Homo sapiens: one gene and its partners. The protein of the gene in region 1 interacts with the protein of each later gene in a pairwise test. Each region holds a gene or a part of one and is shown in the gene's direction. Other genes may lie near its edges.

Region 1 (7,023 bases):
GTGTGCTTGGAACCATGGGAATGCATCTGGGGTCCCATCCTAGGTGGTGGCTGCTGTGTTAGGGGTGTGACCTGGTATTTAGAGAGGAGCGACATTCTCGTGGCTCAGCAGTCCCATCTCCCGGGGAACACGAGCACCCGTCCCCCCGCCCACCTCCATTTGCTGTTTCAAATTGAGAAAAACCCTTCTTTGCTCAGTTCTTCCCAGAACAGCTGATGTGCTTGACACAGAAGAAAAAGAGAAAATGCAAACAGATGAGGGAAACAGCCAGGTGTCGGCACCCAAGCTCGATTGAGCCCTTAATTTTCCAGGCAGAGAGGTACCTCAGGACCAGGATATTGGTTTGCTGGGGGACTGGGGTTTGATCGTGTGTTTCTTCGTAGTTGAAGAGCTGGTCCTGATCAGACATGATTGTGAAGGTAACTCTGAGACACTGTTTCCCAAATGAGTTTGATCTGAGCATTTGCGCTGAATCACCTGGGAAAATTAAAATACACATTCCTGGGCTCCTGGCCATACTCACTGGCTAGAATCCCTGGACTGGAGCCCAGAACTCTGCACATGTGGTCAGTCTTGTGATTCTTGGGTGCCCCAGAATTAGCAGCCATCGCTGTGAAAAAAGCTGACACTTAGATTTCCTGGGTTTTCCTGTTACTATCTTGATGAAAAACTTGCTGTTTTTCTCCTGCCGCAGAACAGATAGTATGGCTGCGCAGTTTTCAGGGCAGACTTCCCACACTGGGTCAGCTCCATCACGCGTCAGCAGTTACACCCACCTGCCCCCATGGTGGGGACCTTACTTGGGGATGTTGTCAGACGGGGCAGCTTGTCGTGATACCTCTGTTCCACACATGCCCCTCCCTCGAACTTCCCCAAATCTCAGCTAGTTTGGCTCTAGGCTGTGGGTCCCTGAGGACTATCCTGTTTCCCAGCCCCAGGACAGTCTCCCAGGATGTCACCTCTAGCACAGGCTACTGGCTCAGACCCCACCACCCGGGAGCCCTGAGCAACCCGTCATGGTCTGAGGGATACATTTAATTTCCTGCTGGTTTATAGAGAAGCCATGATTGACACCATAAAGACTCTGCCAGCCTCTCCCCTCCCAAGGCGGGAGTCGAGTTTGCTCCCTCCGCAAGGGGGAGAGCCTGGCGGAGTGTTCAAGGTTCACAAGAGACAAATTCCAGAATGCACCAAGACCGCGATGCACAGAGACCAAGCGGGTGTTGGGGCCGTGCACAGGGCACTCTGTGTGTCTTCTGGGGGAGTGTCTGTGTTTCTGTATGTCTGCCAGGAGCTTTTCAGCATCCTTTTGCATGGGAGGATTTGGTCATTCATTGAGCATTTTTGAGTCCCTACTATGTGCTGGACACAGTGCAAGGTGAGCTGTGTGTGTGTGTGTGTGTGTGTGTGTGTGTGTGTGTGTGTGTGTGTGTCTGCCTCTGCCTGTGGCTAGCTGTGCCTGTCAGGGCACGCAGGGGTGTGTATGCACATGAGTATGCACAGGAGAGGGGTGTCCAGGGCCGGGAGATGGGGCCAGGCCCAGGTCAGGATCACAGTTTCTGTCCTGTTACATCCCGACTGTCAGTGTCTCTTTAGGTCTCGCTTTTATGTGTATGTGTTGGAGGGGGGTCTTGAAACCAGGTCCCCCACCCCAGAGGGCACCAAACATTAAATGGGCCTATCATGAGGGAGGGAGGGGGACTTGGTCACTCCACAGCTTGGGCTCTACACGTGCCCGAAAGCTTCGAGCTGTTAGAGTGGGGGTGGGTCCCTGGCTCAGCCTCACTCTGGAACTGAATCTCTTGGGGAAAAGGCCTAGGCCGTGGGGTCCTAGAATGGAGCTGAATTCGAATCCCAGCTCTGCCCAGCTAGCTGCGTGGCCCTGGCTGAGTCACCTGCTTTAAGAACCTCATTTCCTCCTCTGTCAAAACAAAGGCCATGATGCAAGTTCTGTGCATGTGTGAGTCCACTGTCTTGCGTAATAAATGCCTGTGGAAGATGCTGGAAGTGGTAAGGGCCCTGAAGCCACCGCCATGGTCTGTGTGTGTTCCCATCCAAACTGCAGACAGAACCACATCAAACCCAGCCACAGCGCGGCACAGACCTGGTGTGGAAGCCCCACTCCCGCCTCTGCCCCCAACCACAAGCTCATGGCTATGGAACAAGGCAAGACCCTTCCATCTGGTGAGAGAAAGCGGGGGCCCTGGTGGGGGTACCAGCTGGGGGTCCCGAGGAGTTCTGAGAGTCCTCTGACAGGGACTGGGGAGATGAGCAAGTTTGATGCCCCTGGAGGGGCTGGATGTTTCCAGCTTCCCCCCGAAGCCCTCGTCCTGCCCACCACTGAAGTCTGTGTGTCTCTTTCTCTACCGCAGCCACGGAGGATGCAAAGGAAGAGGGTCTGGAAGCCCAGATCAGCCGCTTGGCAGAGCTGATTGGGAGGCTGGAGAGCAAAGTAAGCCCTGGCCTGACCACGGCGTCTACTCCTTCCAACCCCTGAGGGAGTGCAGAGTTAAGCCTGGAGTTCAGGACAAAAGTCTGGGCTGCAGAGGGGCCAGGGAACCATGAAAAAGACATCCCCCAGGTGGGGCGTGGAGCTGCCGAGGACGAAGCTAAGGATCAAACCCCGGGGGATGCTCGTGTTGTTCAGGCCCAAGGAGGGGCGCCTGGGAAGAGAGAGTGTTGGGGGGTCAGGCGGGCCTGCAGGCAGCAGGAGCAGCTCCAGGAGCAGAGGGTGGTCAGCAGGGTCCCGTGTTGCAAGGCCCTAGCTTCAAGGAGACTTTGCTCTGAAGTGGCTGGAGCAGATATTGGCCGAAAGGCAGCACCAGGATGAAAGAGAGACGTGATGATTCGAGAGAGTTTCAAAACAAGGAAGGAAGTGACCAGCAGTAGCAAATGTATTAAGTGTGATATGGGACGTCCACAGGTGATAGAAAATGGCACAGCCCTTACAGAAAACATTTTCAGATAATGTTTCGTGACTCGGGATAGAGTGCTCACAATATGACCATTTGGTGGAAAGAAAAGTTTGTCTTAGGGCCTACAGACAGATGGGCTCAGGTATCAGTCAGAATTCTGGTTGTGCCACTTCATAGCTGTGTGACCCTGGGCCAGGGACTTGTCCTCTCTGAGGCTTAGATTCCTCCTCTGATAATCAAGAAAATAACCTGGAGCATGGGACCCCTCCCTCATAGGGGTGTCGTTAGGATGAACCAAAATGATGTCTCCGGTTTAGCACAGGGCCCGGTGCTGTAGCTTGCATTTAATATTAGCAATGTTAGCAATTATTATGAGGCATTCTGTTACCCAAACCTATCCACATGCACACAGCACACCCGTATACCCACATAAGCCAAGGTAACTGAGCTCTCAGAACCCTGGGATTGAGGTGGTTTTATGTTTCTCCTACTTTTGTGTATTTTTTTTACACCCTTTGTAAAGGGTATTGCTACTTTTAGTTTGGGGGTTCTCAGGCATTCATGGGGGCAGGAACAAGGGGCTCCCCGCATGGAGGGAGACAGAGGCTGACGTGGAATGAAGTCCGAGGGAGGAAGCTCAAACTTCCCCTCCTGCAGGGATGAGGCTGAGGTGGAGTTACCCCCTTCCTGAAGCCAGCTGCGGGAGCGGCTCGGAGGGGACCCCGTGGCCCGGTTGTCATAACAACTCAGCGGGCGCCTCGGGAGGGAGACTCTGAAGCTTATTTTTAGAGCACCGTCGCCCTAACAACCAGGCTGGCTGGTAACCACGGAGTACCTGGGCGTCCTGGAGACGGGGTGGGACCAGGTCCTCCTCCCCAGCCTCTAACTGGCCCGGGCGGTCAGCAGGGGCCAATCCGGGCCTGGCTTCAGGCCCCGCCCTTCACCGGCCAACCGGAGCTGCCTCTGGGCTGGAAGGATGGAGGCTCTAGGGGCCCCTGGCTGGGAGAAGAATGGGGCAGATACAGGGGCCACAGTGCCTCTCCTCATCCTCCTATGGCTTTTCCAGCCCCAGGACCCCTCACGTATGCTTGTAAAACCATGGAAACAGACTTGTTCCTGCCAGGCACACCTTCACCACTTACCAAGGCGTGTTCATGCTGTGTGCCCCCAGAAGGCAGTACCCTTGCCAGGATCAGCTACTACAGAGCCCAGTGCAAAATGAGCGTGCAAGGTCCCTTGCTCAAACATTTAGAACGTCACGGTGGTGACTACACAGACTCATCCACCTGCTGCTGTTTTCCTTATTAGCTGGCGTGCTTTACCTGTGGCTGCCCTGTGTGACTCCCGTAGATGGTCTGTCCTCATGGAGGATGGACAGAGATAGCCACAGAGGTGGTTAGTGGGGTGCCCAAGCTGAAGGAAGCAGCAGCATGAGCCTGTGCGTCAGGTAGACACACTGGGTTCAGACCCACGCTCTGACACTTACATGGCTTTCGTGCCTTCAGAGCCGGGGTTCTCTGCCGTGACATAGTGACTGTTGATCTTCTGTGGGGGCTCAGCCCTGTGTGGGCACCAGTCGTGGGCGAACAGAGCAGATGTGGTTCCTGGAGACCGAAACTTACAGTGGGGCAGCACCTTCCCTGGGGAGTCTGGAAGATTGTGTATTTGTAAACCATCTAGCTTAGAGTCTGGGGAAGACCAGAGAGAACAGTTCACCCCATTAGATCCCTGAGGTGCTGGGGGTTATGATTTGGGGTGAATTATAAGTTACAGGGAATCTAAGGGCTGTTGCTCATCATAGTGGCAAACCCCAGCATCTTGGACTCAGGCCTCTGGAGTCCCCCTTGCTGCCTCTCCCAAGCCATCCTCACCCCAGCAACATGTTCTAGGCCCCCTGTAGGCCAGAGGGAGTCTCTGCCACTTCCTAGCGTTGGTCTCCCAGCCCTGTGCAACAGGGCCGGGTCCTTGGGAGCTCCCAACAGCCCCAGGGATCCCAGAGCTCCTGGCTCCCCGGGGCGGAGTGGGGCTCTGGGTCTAGCATCACTGTGTGCTGGATTGTTTCAGGCACTGTGGTTCGACCTGCAGCAGCGCCTGTCAGATGAAGATGGCACCAACATGGTGAGGCCCCTTCCCACCTCTCTTCTGGGACCACATCCCTACCCATGCCAGGACTGCCAAGATCCAAGTGGCTCAATGCCCCTGACCCCGCTCTCCCTGCTTGGGACCACCAGGAGGGGAGATGTCGCCCAGCGCTTGGCACCCAGACCCTGCCCTGGCACAGGAGCCACCCCACCAACTCCGGGGGTATTTCTTGAGGCTCCCTGGACCTTTTTTTTTTTTTTTTTTTTTTTTTTGAGATGGAGTCTTGCTGTATCTCCCAGGCTGGAGTGCAGTGGTGGGATGTCGGCTTACTGCAACCTCTGCCTCCTGGGTTCAAGCAATTCTCCTGCCTCAGCCTCCTGAGTAGCTGGGATTACAGGTGTGTGCCACCACGCCTGGCTAATTTTTTTGGTATTTTTAGTAGAGACGGACAGGGTTTCACCATGTTGGTCAGGCTGGTCTCAAACTCCTATCCTCATGATCTGCCCACCTTGGCCTCCTAAAGTGCTGAGATTACAGGCGTGAGCCACCACACCTGGCCCAGAGGCTCCTGGACTTTGATCCAAAAAAGGTTTGGCATAGAGCAAAGTGATCAGCCAGACAGTGATGTGAAAATGCTGAGTCCATCAACTATGAGTTTTTCTTGTCAGTGGATGTGCTGTGTCTCCAGGCCCTGGAGGCTGTGCAGGTGGTTGTGGACATGGATGGGGCCTCTGTAAACAACCTCGTCTGTTTTCCCCATTTTTGGGGGCTACTTCTGCACTGGGCTCTTGAGGTTCTAGTCCTTTCTTAGCCCATTTTTAGTCCATTCTTATCCATTCATGGGTAAGAATGAAAAGTGGGGGAGGGTTATTTTATTTTGACCGAGGAAGGGAGGTCATGGGGGCCTGATGGGGTGTTTAGGGAGAAGGCCTGACGTGGAGCCCCACACTGACTCCTGCTGTGCCCGGCAGCACCTGCAGCTGGTCCGGCAGGAGATGGCCGTGTGCCCCGAGCAACTGAGCGAGTTTCTGGACTCTCTGCGCCAGTATCTGCGGGGGACCACTGGCGTGAGGAACTGCTTCCAGTGAGTGAGCTGCCGAGGCGTGGGTGGGATGGTGGCAGGGAGCTCTGCCTGGCAGTGGAGGAACAGGGCAGGACTAGGCTTTGCCCTAAGTAGTACAAGTTGCACCCCAGGGACACACACAGCTGGATGCGTAAGAAGTGGGTTCAGGTCTCTACTGAGGTTCCTCCCAGCCAAGCAAATGTGGCAGGTGTCTTCATCTCCCTGGCATCAGCTTACTCATCTGTAAAGGGGGGACCACCCCCAGGACTCCTTGCTGGGGTGATCATGAGTGCATATACAATCAAGTGTGTGAATCTCAAGTGTGAAGGGCTCCAGCTGGGCCTGGTGTGCCCCGTGCGCTCAGTCAGCCTCAGCTGCTGCTGTCACAGGGGTTCCTGCACACTTAAGTCCAGGCCCAGAATGTAGTATTTGCTCAGTTAACCACTGAGGAAGGAGAGGAGAGTCGGTAGCTGAAGGGAAATGCCCAAGTCATGTAGTTGCCCTTCTCCCCCTGATGTGCTGAGATGTCCAGGGCGGGGCAAGCGGCCTTACCTTCAAATTCCTGTTCATCCCACCAGGCTGATGTAGCTCCTTGGTAAAGCTAAGGCATGTGGCCAGGGCCAGAGTGGAGGGGGTTGCAGAAGACAACAGCCCTTTGTTCTTGCTGGTAGTGGTCCCCCGCCCCCCGTTTCTGCAGCAAGGCTCTGCCCAACTCCCTTCCCAGGGCTTTCTTCCATCCCCAGAGCACACACTCATTCACCCCATTGCCTGGGGACATGGCTGTGAACCAGGCAGGCCAGGTCCTAGCACAGGGTCTTTGAGAGGGGTCTTCTTGGGCCCCCTGTGCACTGAGGCTTGAGTGACAACAGCCTGACCTGTAGCACGAGGGGAGGAGTAGCCTGGGCAGGAGTGCGGCCGTTCCCGAGACTCGGCGTGGCCACGAGGGGCCATTCTTGAGTAAGT
Region 2 (7,322 bases), on another chromosome or scaffold:
CCACAGATACCCTTTCACTTGGGGGTGAATTATTCTCTGGTGTCCTCACTGGAAAAGCCTCTGGCAAATGAATAACAGGCATCTCTATAGCTGCTTTTTTGTCTTCCTGTGGACATGGACATCCCTGCATTTGGAGCTTTTTTTTCTTCAGGTTTTGAGCTCTGAAAATTATGGAGTGACCAGGACTGCTGTGTGAGCACTGACTGTATTAATTATACAGTGCTAGAATATTCCATACAACACTGCCCTTGATTAACAAAACTGGCTACAGGCTGGGTGTGGTGGTTCACGCCTGTAATCCCAACACTTTGGGAGGCCGAGGTGGGCAGATCACTTGAGGCCAGGAATTTGAGACCAGCCTGGGCAACATAGTGAAACCCTGTCTCTATTAGAAATACAAAAATTAGCCGGTGCAGTGGCACACGCCTGTAGTCTCAGCTACTCAGGAGGCTGAGGCATGAGAATCGCTTGATCCTGGGAGGCGGACGTTGCAATGAATGGAGATTGCACCACTGTACTCCAGCCTGGGCAACAGAGTAAGACTCCGTCTCAGGGAAAAAAAAAAGAAAGAGAGAGACTACAATCTGATTTCCTTTAAATGAATTCACTTGACTTAGCAGGTATTGTATTATTTAGGAATAACTAGCTTTAGGCCAGGTGTGGTGGCTCACGCCTGAAATCCTAGCACTTTGGGAGGCCAAGGCAGGCAGATCACCTGATGTCAGGAGTTTGAGACCAGCCTGGTCAACATGGTGAAATCCTGCCTCTACTAAAAATACAAACATTCACCAGGTGGCGGGCACCTGTAGTCCCAGCTACTCAGGAGGTTGAGGCAGGAGAATTGCTTGAACCCAGGACGTGGAGGTTGTAGTGAGCCAAGACTATGCCACTGCACTCTAGCCTGGGTGACAGAGAGAGACTCCATCTCAAAAAAAAAAAAAAAAAAAGGAATAACTAGCTTTTTAGAACAATGGAATTGATGACTCAGCTATTCCAGGCTGGGGTGCTGCCCTGCAGAGCACGATATAGGCTTTATTTATTTTATTTTAATTTTTTTTTTTTGAGACAGGGTCTTACTCTATCGCCCAGGCTGGAGTGCAGTGGCACGATCTTGGCTCACTGCAATCTCTGCCTCTTGGGTTCAAGCGATTCTCCTGCTTCAGCCTCCTGAATAGCTGGGATTACAGACGCGCACCACCATGCCTGTCTAATTTTTGTATTTTTAGTAGAAACGGGGTTTCATCATGTTGGCCAAGCTTGTCTCGAATTCCCAGCCTCAAGTGATCCGCCTGCCTCGGCCTCCCAAAGTGCTGGGATTACAGGTGTGAGCCACCACACCAGGCCCAATATAGGCTTTAAATCAATGTATATAATGCTTTGTCCTTTGTGGCCAGAATGCATAACAAGAAGAGGTAGCGGTGGTTGTGGCACCTTATATGATTTACCTAAGGACTAAGAGTTTTCTTCCTGTCTCTGAGATTCTGGGTATTGCAGGTCAGAAGGTGATAGCATCGGCCAGGCACAGTGGCTCACACCTGTAATCCCAGCACTTTGGGAGGTCAAGGCGGGCAGATCATTTGAGGTCAGGAATTTGAAATCAGCCTGACCAACATGGTGAAACCCTGTCTCTACTAAAAATACAAAAATTAGCCGGGTGTGGTGGCACGCGCCTGTAACCCCAGCTACTCGGGAGGCTGAGGCAGGAGAATGACTTGAACCTGGGAGGCGGAGGTTGCAGTGAGCTGAGATCGCGCCACTGCACTCCAGCCTGGGTGACAGTGAAACTCTGTCTTGGGAAAAAAACAAAACAAAACATGGTGATAGCATCATGGGAGGAATGTTTCTTCTAACCAAGAAACACAAAGATGATTCCCTGGGATTTCGGCTCCTGGTAGCACTAGAGGAATAGGAGAAGGGGGTGGTCTCAGTGTAGACTGGACTGATCATGGCTACCAAGGAGAAAGGGAGTTACTGTTACCTAATAAGTGTTGAGAGGTGCGTGAATGGAACCCAGAGACCCTGGGGTCACCACCTTGTGCTATTGTAGTAATCAGCATTCTTTCAATTGTCGGTGAAAGAAATTCCACTCAAGTTAGGCTTGGCAAAATAAGGCATACAAAACTATAAGTTTAGATGCAGGAAACAGGGTCTGCAACATTATCAGAACTATCTCTCATCTCTGTTTCTTCCCTGCCTCGTCTTCCTTTAATTTCGTTTCAGAAGATCCCAGAGAAGGACTCTGACTGGCTCACCTGGAGTGGAGCTCCTATCCCTGGATTCTTCAGGCTTTCATTTGACCCACATGGTTAAGCTGGGAGAGACAGAGTCCAAAGAGAGGCGGAGAAGGGCTATTCTGGGCAGAACAAACAATTGATGACTTTATGGCTCTGTGGTCTGGGCAGAACTGCATAACCCTAGATCACCAAAGCTGAGAGCCTTTAGGAGTGAGGATTTGGGCCAGGCATGGTGGCTCACGCCTGTAATCCCAGCACTTTGGGAGGCCGAGGTGGGTGGATCACAAGGTCAGGAGATCAAGACCAACCTGACCAACATGGTGAAACCCCATCTCTACTAAAAATACAAAAATTAGCTGACGTGATGCATGCACCTGTAATCCCAGCTACTCAGGAGGCTGAGGCAGGAGAATCGCTTGAACCCGGGAGGTGGAGGTTGCGGTGAGCCGAGATTGCGCCACTGCACTCCAGCCTAGGCGACAGAGCGAGACTCCATCTCAAAAAAAAAAAAAAAAAAAAAAAAAGTGAGGATTTGGGTCACCCCAGGCTGAAGGCCAGGGGAACCTGAAGTGGATAAGGGAAGGGAGAAGACTTAGGCCACAGGATCTGATGTAGAAATGGGGCTGACGTCTCCACCTGTATTTTCTTAGCTGGAGGAGTGTGCAAAGTTTGAATTACTTCTGCCTTCTCCTTCTTATTTCCTTTTCCCTTTTAAAATAGTCATCATAATCATAAAAATTTCTTTTCCATTTTCCCTGTTTTTGCATATAGGATTTCTTGGTGTGATTTAATTTGCCAATTAGTCTCTAGGTTGCAGAATGGTGACTTGGAATCAAATTGAAACTGGAAGAGGGCACCTCATATATTAGGGTCAGCAATTACTGAACTCTGTTCTCTTTTATTCCAAACAGGGCCCCCAACTTCACATTTCCCCAGGGTGCAAAAGAGTGAGGGGGGTCAAGCTTCAGTAGAGTGGAGCTCTGAGAAGAATCCACTGGAGTTTGGAACCCAAGACCCTTTTTTATCACGCTGTTCCTCCTCACCTGGGCAAAAGCACTGGTACCCACTTCACAGGCATCATGGGTGGGCTCTGTGTCCTGCGGAGAGCCCCCGTCCCGGGTACAGGACATCAGCCCTGAGCCCTGTCCCAGGCTTGGATCTTCTTTCTCTCTCTCTCTTTTTTTTTTTTTTTTTTTTTTTTTTTTTGAGACGGAGTCCCACTCTGTTGCCCAGACTGGAGTGCAGTGGTGCAGTCTTGGCTCACTGCAACCTCCACCTCCCAGGTTCAAGCGATTCTCCTGCCTCAGCCTCCCAAGTAGCTGGGATTACAGGCGCCCGCCACCAAGCCCGGCTAATTTTTGTATTTTTAGTAGAGATGGGGTTTCACCATGTTGGCCAGGCTGGTCTCAAACTCCTGACCTCAGGTTATCTGCCCGCCTCGGCCTCCCAAAGTGCTGGGGTTACAGGCGTGAGCCACCGCACCCGGCCTCAGTGACTTTAGTCAAGTAAGCACAAAAAGGAATATATAATTCCAAATTGTGATAAATGCTATGAAGAAAAGGAATGTGCTCTGACATAAAGGGGGGAACGAACGTGATCTAGGGAGTCAGAGATCTCTCCGAGAAGAGATCTGAAATAGGAGTAAGTCGAGAGGGGGAAGAGAATGCTAGACCGAGGGAACAGTGCGTGCCAAAGCCGCGTGGCGGAAAGGGGCGTGTGGGAGGGTAACTGCGGAGAGGGAGGGTAGAGGACGAAGCCGGAGAGGCAGACGAAGGGCAGGACGCACAGAGCCCCGCGGCTACCGCCTTAGGGGTTGTCCCGGCGGTGGGGAAGCCATTGAGGAGTTTAACGCCGGAAGGTGGTGACTAATCAGATTTCACTTGAAAATGGCACGGTGTCTGCAGCGAGGCTAACTGATGGGAAGGGCCCAGCGAATGCCAATAGGAGAGAGCACCGGACCTGGAAGGCCTGGGTCAACGCGGCCCCGCGCGGGGGCGAAGCGGTTCCGGCGCAGGGGCCTGGCGCGGGGCTCCGCGGAAAACCGAACCGGCCCACGTGGGACCGGTCGCTCCGCCCTGCTGCGCAGACGCCGCCTGACTCCGCAGTCCGGGACTGGGGCTGGGCGCGCTGCCCGGGAGCCCCGCACCCACGCCTGGACCGCGGAGACGCCCAGGCCGAGGAACCCCCAGCCCAGGGACTAGACACCACCAGGGCCGGGCGGAGCCAGAGCCAGACGCGCCGGAGCGGGCGCCTCTACGCCGTGAGTCCGAGTCTGGGGCCCGAGGCGGGGTGGGGCTTGGGGCTCAGCCGCGGGAAGCGGGGAGTCACAGTGGCCTCCTTCGAGGAGACTAGGGAAGGATGGTCTCTGTCTCCTGGGGTGGTCTCCCACTCCCGCAAGGCCAGAAAAGGAGGCTGCCTCCTGTTTGGGCGGAGACCTAGTCCTGGCGTGTCGGGGTTCTCATTTTACTATCTCTGAGAACCCTGTGATCCCTAGCGCCACCCCCACCCCATCCCAGCTTCCTTCACGGCCCCATCCAAGTATAGGAAAAATAAAAAATTGGGGCGAGGGGAGATCTCTAGGCACCTTCCCACAAGCCTTGCTTAGAGGGCGATTAGAAACGAACTGTTCCTACACCCTTCTCCCCAGGACTTCTCTGCCCATTGCTGGGGGTGGGGAGGGTCCATGCCACCTATGGAGCGCCTTCCAGTGCCGGCTCCACTTACAATACCCTTCCTCTTCATGCTCTTCAATTGTTCTAATCCCAGTGCTGTTTGGTCAGTAGAATCCCTTTGTCAGTTCAAATCCTAATTTTGGTTAGAAGCAGGTTATGGAGGAGAGAAGAGTGGTGTGGTATGCCCTCCCTCCAGGGCCTCAGAATGGAGCAAGCTAGGGACGGGGACCGCAAGATAGTGGCTGTGTTCCAGAGGCATTGGGAGGGAAGGGGGCAGGCTCAGAAGAAAAGCTTGTCACTGGGGAAGGCGGGGCTCCCTGGCTGGGGTAGGAAAGGGAACCAAACCCAGCTCTTCCAGAACCCAGCTCTTCCAGCCCTGGGGAGTCAAGAGTGGATTCCTGAGCATGGAAATTCACTGCAGTCTCTTCTCCCATTCACTCACTTAGCAAGTACCTGTATGCACAGACAGCCTGGTTCAGGGCTCTATGCTGGCTGACTCTGGGGAATATGATGGAGGATATATACAGGAGGTCCAAGCCAGATTACAAACTGCTATTACAAGATCATTACCACAAACCAAAAATGCCAGTTGAATAGACATTCACTGATCGTCGACCATGTATGCCAGGGACGGATGCAAAGTTGGATAAGACAGTGTATACCCAGCGCAGTGGGGACCCAGAGGAAGGCATAACTAACCGTGCTTGTTTATGTAATATTGATTGGGGCAGTATCAAGACGGCTTCAGAGACATGGGGACATGGAAACATGGGGATATTACAGCTAATTTTGAAGTACAAAAAGGAATTTGCTGGGTGGAGAAGGGAGGAGCTTTGAGGGGAGGGGAGAGGAAGGATATTGTAGGCCAAAGGAATACTGTAAGAAAAACAATGGTGTGTTTTGAGATCTCTGGGCAGTTTGCTATGATGGGAGGGGCAGAGTGGCAAGAGGCAGGTATGGAGGGGTGAGCAGGGGCCAGATCAAACAGGGTGTTGTAGGCCAGGTAGAGGTTTAGCAGGAATTCAGGGAGGGCATTAGGAGTGGTGACAAGTGAAATTTACATTTTTAACTGGAGGCAGAGAGATCAGTGAAAAGGCCGAGGCAATAATCCAGGTCAGAAATGGCCTGGAAGAGGAAGAATGGTCAGAATGTGGTTATTAATGAGATGGGAGAAGGAAGGATAGTGAGGACCCCAGGATGCTCTCAGCTTTCTGGATGGAGTACAGAGCCATCTTGCTGAGGATACTGAAGGAGAGCTTGTTTGGTTATGTAGAATTTTGGCGGGGGGCGGTGGTGGAGGGGGATGATGTCACTCTGTCACCCAGGCTGGAGTGCAGTGGCGCAATCTCGGCTCACTGAAACCTCTGCCTCCTGGGTTCAAGTGATTCCCCTGCCTCAGCCTCCCAAATAGCTGGGATTACAGGTGCCTGTCACCATGCCTGGCTAATTTTTGTATTTTTAGTAGAGATGGGGTTTCACCATGTTGGCCAGTCTAGTCTCGAACTCCTGACCTCAGGTGATCTGCCTGCCTCGGCCTCCCAAAGTGCTGGGATTACAGGTATGAGCCACCATGCCTGGACTGGTTATGTAGAATTTGAGGAGACTATGGTTGGTTGCAGGGTTGGATAGCAGTTGGATCTGGGCTGAAGACAGATCTGAGAGTCACCAGCATATGATGGTCTTTGAAGCTACAGCAGAGAATGAGGTCCTCTGGAGAGAAATGCACAAAATCAGAAGACAGCCTGGCTCTGAGGACGGAGGAAAAACCCTTTGCAGGAGACTGAGAATGAACAGGTAGACAGGGAGGACGAAAACCACGAAGGGAAGTGTTACCAGAGTCAAGAGAAAGGGCTTGACAGGGAGTGGCCAGGCTCTTGCTTGCAGCCTTGTCCCTGCAGCTAAGTTGCCCTGACTTCAGGCACCCCACCCTGTCCTACTGTGACTCGGTCTCCTGCTTTCCCTTTACAGGCTAGATGTTCGCCATCCAGCCAGGGCTAGCTGAGGGGGGCCAATTCCTGGGGGACCCACCTCCTGGATTATGTCAGCCCGAGCTCCAACCAGACAGCAACTCCAACTTCATGGCAAGTGCCAAGGATGCTAACGAGAATTGGCATGGGATGCCAGGCAGAGTGGAACCTATCCTGAGGAGGAGCTCCTCTGAGTCACCCTCTGACAACCAAGCCTTCCAGGCCCCTGGATCCCCTGAGGAAGGGGTGCGCAGCCCCCCAGAGGGGGCAGAGATTCCCGGGGCTGAGCCTGAGAAGATGGGTGGTGCTGGCACAGTCTGCTCCCCTCTGGAGGACAACGGCTATGCCAGCAGTTCCCTGAGCATTGACAGCCGTAGCAGCAGTCCTGAGCCTGCCTGTGGGACCCCGCGAGGCCCTGGCCCTCCCGATCCCCTTCTGCCCTCAGTGGC
Region 3 (7,023 bases), on another chromosome or scaffold:
AGGTGTTGGAGTGCATAGTGGATGTTAGGAAGGGCCAGGGTGTTGAAATCTAAGTGCTTTAAAGGGAAAAGTGAATCACAAAATATTCAGCCCACCCTCAAGGTTCACAACATGAATATTTGCATAATCATGTTCTTCGTCATTGAAATGCACCAATCTACAAAAATGATCATTAAAAAAAAAACTTTAGATTCTTCAGGGTCATTTATAATTTATAATATATAAACTTTTCCTGGGTGTCTTTCATTTTTTAATTTGGTAGTTGATTGAATTATCACATAATTCCAGCCAGAAGATAAGATTGATTTTTTCAATCACAGAGCAGTTCAGACCAACAAAGGGCGTACATGAAATGGGAATTAAAATACTGACATTCGGCCGGGCGCGGTGGCTCACGCCTGTAATCCCAGCACTTTGGGAGCCTGGGGTGGGCAGATCACGAGATTGAGACCATCCTGGCTAACACGGTGAAACCCCATCTCTACTGAAAATACAAAAAAAAAAAATATATATATATATATATATTAGCTGGGCATGGTGGCAGGTGCCTGTAGTCCCAGCTACTCAGGAGGCTGAGGCAGGAGAATGGCGTGAACCCGGGAGGCGGGGCTTGCAGTGAGCTGATATTGTGCCACTGCACTGCAGCCTGGGCGACAGAGCGAGACTCCATCTCAAAAAAAAAAAAAAAAAATACTGACATTCATAGTTTATATTAGCAGTAATGTTAGGCATCATGCAATATGTGTTTTCTAACTTGTACAACAAGTTGCCATTGTTCCCATTTACAGATGAGGAAACTGGAAGCTAAGAGAAGTTACATGACTATAGGATTATGCAGCTAGCAAGAGATAGAGCCTGGATTTGAACCCTGGTCTGTTCCTACTTCAGAGCCTGATCTGTTAACCTGTACAGATAGAATGGATATTTATTCACCTTACAAACATAGAACTAGTTTTGATAGGGCTAATGTAACAAAGCACTGGAAAATTATTAGACTAACATGATTTATATTTTTCAAAGTGCTATATGCTATCTGATTTGAGCTTTACAACGGTTAATTAGTGCACAAGGCAATGCTGTTTTCATGGATGATGAAATTGAGGCTTAGAGGGTTACACGATGTTCTCATATTCCTGTGGCCAGCCGGGATAGATCTCAAGTCTTAGACCAACTTGAGGGTGAGTGCTCTTGCATGATGTAAGGGAACATACACAACTAGGCGTCTTTTCTGTTGTATCCATGGGAAGACAGTCTTTAGATCTGCAGCTCTATCATTTCATGCAGAATAGTTGCTTTATATTTTTCATCTTTCTGCATCACAGTGTCTGTCAGTAACTTACAGACTTTTTCACTGCCCCGTTCATAGCAATACATTTTTATATATTGATCTGATATGTATGTGAAAAAAGTTTTATGAAATAATTCTTACAACCACAAATGATTTTATCATGTTTTATTCAGTCCTCCTTTTTTGTTATCAGTTATTTAATTAGGTTCTTCTTAAGAAATGTAGAACACCAATTTGTGAGGATAAATTCCATGAGTCGGGGCAAACACAGATCGCAGGTAGTCCTGGAGCTTAGGAATAGCTTTGATTTTTGGTAAAATTTGTGACTCCACAGCTTTCTGATCAATCTTGTGCTGCTCTGTAATCTTGTATTTATCTTTTTCTGTGCTGAAGATCTCAGCTTCCTGGTGTCTGGGCTTCTGCAGCTGCTGCTGCTTGAATAAGCATCAGTGGGATGTTTTGGGATTTTTACATCGCTGATAACAATTTTGGTTGAGGTGGCAATGACAGATTTCTGGTGTTTTCTTCATAGAGGAACTCGATTGAGGACCAGAGGTCCAGTCACAAGTAACAAGCCACTAGCCAGGTGCTTCAGGAAGACCGCCCTCTTGCCTCTGTGGAATCCAGTGAGGATGATCAGAACGTTCCCCGGGGTAATGCTGGTTCGCAGTTTTCTCACGTGTCAACTGAGGGTTTTTTTTTTTTTTTGCCATGGCTCAACAGCTTTTGAGGCACATCTTCAGTAGGAAAATATCTAGGCATTTTATGAAGTTTAACCACCTGGGTACTACCATTCTTGTCACCACCAACTGGTTTTGTAACAGTTGCAAGAACCTTCTTTTTCTTTTCAACCTCGTACTTAGCGGCTGAGTACTTCCTCTTATACACAGCTTTTCTGGAATACATAGCACATCGGGAATACCTGCCAATTCCTCTGACAAGGACAGGGTTGTGCTGCAATGGGGCTTCCCCTTCTTGGGCTTCTTAGCCTTGAGGTGACCCTTTTTCACCTTGTCACCAGCCTCAGCCTTCTTGGCTTTGGGTTTCTTCTCTTTAGTATCCGGCTTCTCAACTTTTTCACCCACCATCTTACAAGATGGGGAAGAGCAAGTCCCTTTGTTTTAATTTTTTAGAAAACACGGGTCAGGGATCAGTAGATTGTTGTCATTACCGCATCTGTAGCTGGAAAACAGTTGTCTGTGTGGTGTTGCTCTTGCAGAAAGAAGAGCCACCTCATCTTTGGTCATTTCAAGTGGTGTCCCAGCTTTTTGTGGTTAATCTGTGATAGTTGAAATAATCAGTACTTAGCTTGTGAGTGCCTCTTTCTCAAATTGCAGAGAAGTGACTAAGATATCCTCTTACCACCTGTCCTAAAGTGCCCTGCCTGGTGTAACCACCCTGAGGTAAATGTGTCTGCATTGCTAGAACACCAGTGTTTTGGAGCCTAGAATTGGTGAGTTTTCATTTAATGCAAAACCTCGTGTGGAAAACCAGGCTGCTCTAGAAACTCAATGGGGAGTAATTAGTAGTTTTACTAGTTGTAGTTATGAGGATGAGCTATGTGCAGAATTTTAGCTTTTTTTCCTTCCAGTATTTACTGCATCTTTCCTATATGCAAGATACTATGCTGTGCTGCAGTAACAATGCTACAATAATCAAAACAGCATAGCGCTGGCATAAAGAGCAACAGCTAACACCACTAGAGTATAACAGAGCACCCAGAACGGAGCCACCCTTACACAATTATTGATTTTTGACAAATACACTAAAACCAAATGGAAGGAAAGATATTTTCAGTAAATGATGCTGAACAACTGGATATCCATACGGAAATAATAAGCAACAACCCCTACCCCACATTATACAAAACATTCTGAAATGAAGGACCAATGGAAGGAATGGCAGGAACCAACATGGGAGACATTGGAAAATAAAATTAGTAAGGAAAACTGTATACTAGTTCTAATACATTGGAAAATCTAAGTGAAGTAAATGGCTAAAAAGTACAAAAAAATACAAGAAATAGAAAATCTAAGCAAACCAGTAAGTGAGGAAGACATAAGAAGAATCTGTCAGCTAAGAGGAGAAAGTTACTGAAGGAAGGAAGGAATGAGCAGTTAAATCGAAGACTGGATGAGATCAGTCAGAGAAGTCTCTTTGGATTTGTATCTTAGACATTATTTATGACCCCAAGGAGGTTTTTTCAGTGAAACAGAATGGATGTCCACATGCTGTGGGGCTGCAAAGAGAATTGGGGGTAAGGAAGTGGACACGGATTAGATTAAACAGTTTAATGTGGTTCTGCTGTAAATGATACCCAGGGCAGAGTCTTGAGCATACTTAAATTATAATTGTCAAGAGCCAGTAGAGAGGGGAAGGATGAATATGCGAAGGAGAAAACAGCATTGATGGTGAGAAGTCCCTGAGGAATTGAGGTCTGGAGTAATTGGCAAGGGATTTGCCCTAGACAGACAGAGGAGGGTTCTCTGTTTCACTGTGAAATGAAAGGACCAATGAAGATCCAGCTCATGACTGGAGTTGGGAGGAATTTGGAGGAGTTCCTGACTGGTTGCTTCCATAAAATGAGATGGTTTAGTCATCTGCTGAAAATGAGGGGAGAATGAAAGGATGGGAAATTCGTGAGAATGGAGACAGTGGAATGGTCAGTGTAGACAATAGGAAAGAAAATGAAATGGGTAAATACCCCAGGACCAATAGGCAATGTTGAGGCCCCAGTGGTTTTTGCCAGCATTGTTTTGCGCATGCTATAGGCATGGAGAACGCCAAGTGGACTTAAACTTACTGGTCTCAGGTCTCATTCTCAATTATTGATAGACCCAGAGAGCTTTTATTTACATAGGACACATTTATTGATAATTACCGTATTAGAAATTAAAGCCAGGAAATTACAAAATGTATATTCCATGTAGAAATGCAATAATAAACCCATAGTATGCTAACAGATATTTTTATGAAAAGACTATATTTGCGAAAACAAACACTTCAGTGAGAAAAGTGACATTGTTTTAGAAACCTCTGGCATAGTAGTTGGATTCTATTTCTCTCTCCAGTCTGTTGCTGTATGTTGTTTTCAAGTACACGAAGAAAATTCATCCACAGATAAGTAGTTAGAAAAAGGAGTATCTTAATAGCCTTTTCAGATAATTGTGGATATTCTTCTTGATACTACACCAAAACTAGACAATTGGTTTCTTAAAGATCAGTTGCAATGTGGATTCTGAAATCATTTCAATGAACTTTTCATACATTAAAGCCTGTTCTATTTTGCTCTTTGAATGGATCTTTTTACCTAGATGTGATTTTGTAACATCTTGATTTTGTAATGTCATGGTTCAGTGAATTATGCAGATCTTCTTAATGTTGACATTTTTGATTAGATAATATTAAAAAATCTCATTAATATCACCACTGATTTCATTGGAAAAGGCTTCAAGTATTGGGAAGCTATTAAGCTCCTGGTGGTGGGTACAAGTTTTCCACTTTTCCAGTTCTCACTTGACAGCTGGAATTTTATCATCGGTGGTAAATACTATCATTGTTTTCTTTTAGCTTTAAGCTTGTTTTGTTCAGTTCTGAGAAAATGTCTACCAAACACCCAAATCTGACTAATCAAACAATTGCACAAGTGCTTTTCTTTGAGGAAACCATTCTACTTTAGTATGTAACAAAAGTGCTTTATACATTTTATTTTTTCATGCTGATTATTAAAAGGCTGTGTACTCAAAGGTTGAGATTTAGGAAAATTATGCTAATTATACTTCGTCAAGGACATTCTTAAGAGAAACTAGACTTTTTATTTTTTTGTAAGTGCATGTTGGTGAAGAATACAGTTTGAAGGCCTTGCCTTTATTTTTGCTGATGCCAGTAGTCCCCCTTCCCAAATCCTCCCCCCATGTTGCTTTTGGACTGTCAGTGCAAATCTGAGCACAATGAAAACGGGGCACATAATGTCTTAGTATATCATGAAAATAAATTTGACCTTGCAAAACCTCTGAAAGAGCCTCTGTGGACCACATTTTGAGATGTTCTAGGCTTGAGATTTTGTTAGGTGTGTTCAATGGAATTGAGACATGGTCATCAAAGATAACATAGTTAAAAAGATTGGACCATGGCCTCCGGCCTGGAGAGTGTTTTTTCCTTTCTTTCTACACAGCCCTTTCTGAGAGGATACCAATGTGTGTTTGCCAACTTATTTGAAATATGACAATTATATACTACCTAGTCAAAAACAATTTTAGATGCCGAAATAATATTTTGGGAGTGAAGAACTGTAGCTTGGAAGACTAGATCAGAACAAAGGGTTTAAGGACCAGAGTTCTAGTTGCTACTCATCATTCTTCCTGAGTTCTGGGAATGTCACCTAACCTAATTCTCAGCGTTCTCATCTCTAAAAAGGGGTTAATACTATTTGCCCCCACCGTACTCAGGGTAGTTTTGATGTTCAGATGATACCATCGGTTCCTTACCCCAGATAACATCTTCATCTTTATTTCCGTAAAACTGTGCTTGTTGTGTGGTAGATAAGTCTGGAAATGTTTATTGAATTAAGGAATGAACTTTTAGAAAAACCTTATTCTGAAAGTTTTAAACATAATACAAAAATAGATAAAATTTTATGATGAGCCCCTGTATATCCTTCCCCTGAAACATGCAGCTCTAGAAAATGACATGTTCCTTTAAAACCAAAATATGATCACACCCAACAAAATTAAAATTAGTTTGTTAATTTTATCAGATACTCTTCTCACATTCGTATATTTTCCAACTGAATTAAAATATGTACATACATTTGCTTTTACAGTTGGTTTTTCAAGTCAGGTCAACACGAAGTTCAATCCTTGCATTTGCTTATTATGAATCTTGGTTTCTTTTAATGAAGAACGTTGTCATTTTCTCAACTTGGCTGATTTTTTCCATGCCATTGACTTGCTGGAGAAACTGGGGCTAGTTTTGTAAAATGTCTTTGATTTGTGTAATTGCTTCCTGGCATATTGACACTTAGTTAATTCCTCTCTTCCCTACATTTAACAAGGATACTTCGTAGACGATGGCTGGGTAATTCCTGTAGTATAACATAGGTGGTACATAATCTTTTACTGATGTCAAGCTTGATCATTGGGTTCAAATGGTGGCAGGCTCATCTTTCCATTGTCACCATTGGCCTTTTTCATAAGGTTTTAGCATCCATTGATGATCATTGTCTGAGTGAATGAGCTTTGGAACTATGAGGTGCTAAATACTTGTGTGGAGGTAGTACACAGGTAATATTATATCATTACTGTTAATACAGTCGGGGACAGTGTCTTTATTTGAACAAAGCCATCTTTGGAATAATATCCAAGAGGCAGAGCTGCGATGGCAACAAGCCTCCAAATTACGGACTGTAGATGTAACAATAAGGATAATTTTATGTATAATGTGGAAAGGACTGACATCTTTTTAGCCACAGACAAGATTTAGAGCTTGTCTCTTTACATCAAATCATATCACAACAAATACCTTGTGAGAGGATCATTTGAACCCAGGGAGTCGAAGTTGTGGCCTTGATTGTGCCACTCCACTCCAGCCCGCGTGACAGAGAGATACCCTGTCTCCAAAACAAACAGAAAACCAGAAAAACGCACAAAAAACCCCAAATATCCTTAAATCATTTTTTAAATAAAAGAGTTCACCAAGACCACCCTATATGTAGATTATTTTAAGAACTGATTGAT

The links.
Region 2: the proteins of NECAB2 (region 1) and C1orf216 interact in binary tests that used the Homo sapiens proteins (3 or more experiments, as listed by UniProt).
Region 3: the proteins of NECAB2 (region 1) and PRPF18 interact in binary tests that used the Homo sapiens proteins (3 or more experiments, as listed by UniProt).

Annotation. Positions count from the first base shown.
Region 1 is NC_000016.10:83,992,237-83,999,259, forward strand, and holds part of NECAB2 (N-terminal EF-hand calcium-binding protein 2), read left to right. Parts: intron 1-2,065; coding exon 2,066-2,184; intron 2,185-2,372; coding exon 2,373-2,452; intron 2,453-4,979; coding exon 4,980-5,033; intron 5,034-5,968; coding exon 5,969-6,081; intron 6,082-7,023. UniProt on the Homo sapiens protein: May act as a signaling scaffold protein that senses intracellular calcium.
Region 2 is NC_000001.11:35,715,879-35,723,200, reverse strand, and holds the start of C1orf216 (UPF0500 protein C1orf216), read left to right. Parts: upstream 1-4,316; 5' UTR 4,317-4,494; intron 4,495-6,289; exon of another isoform or gene 6,290-6,700; intron 6,701-6,874; 5' UTR 6,875-6,879; coding exon 6,880-7,322.
Region 3 is NC_000010.11:13,589,948-13,596,970, forward strand, and holds part of PRPF18 (pre-mRNA-splicing factor 18), read left to right. Parts: intron 1-1,820; exon of another isoform or gene 1,821-1,920; coding exon of another isoform or gene 1,921-1,941; intron 1,942-7,023.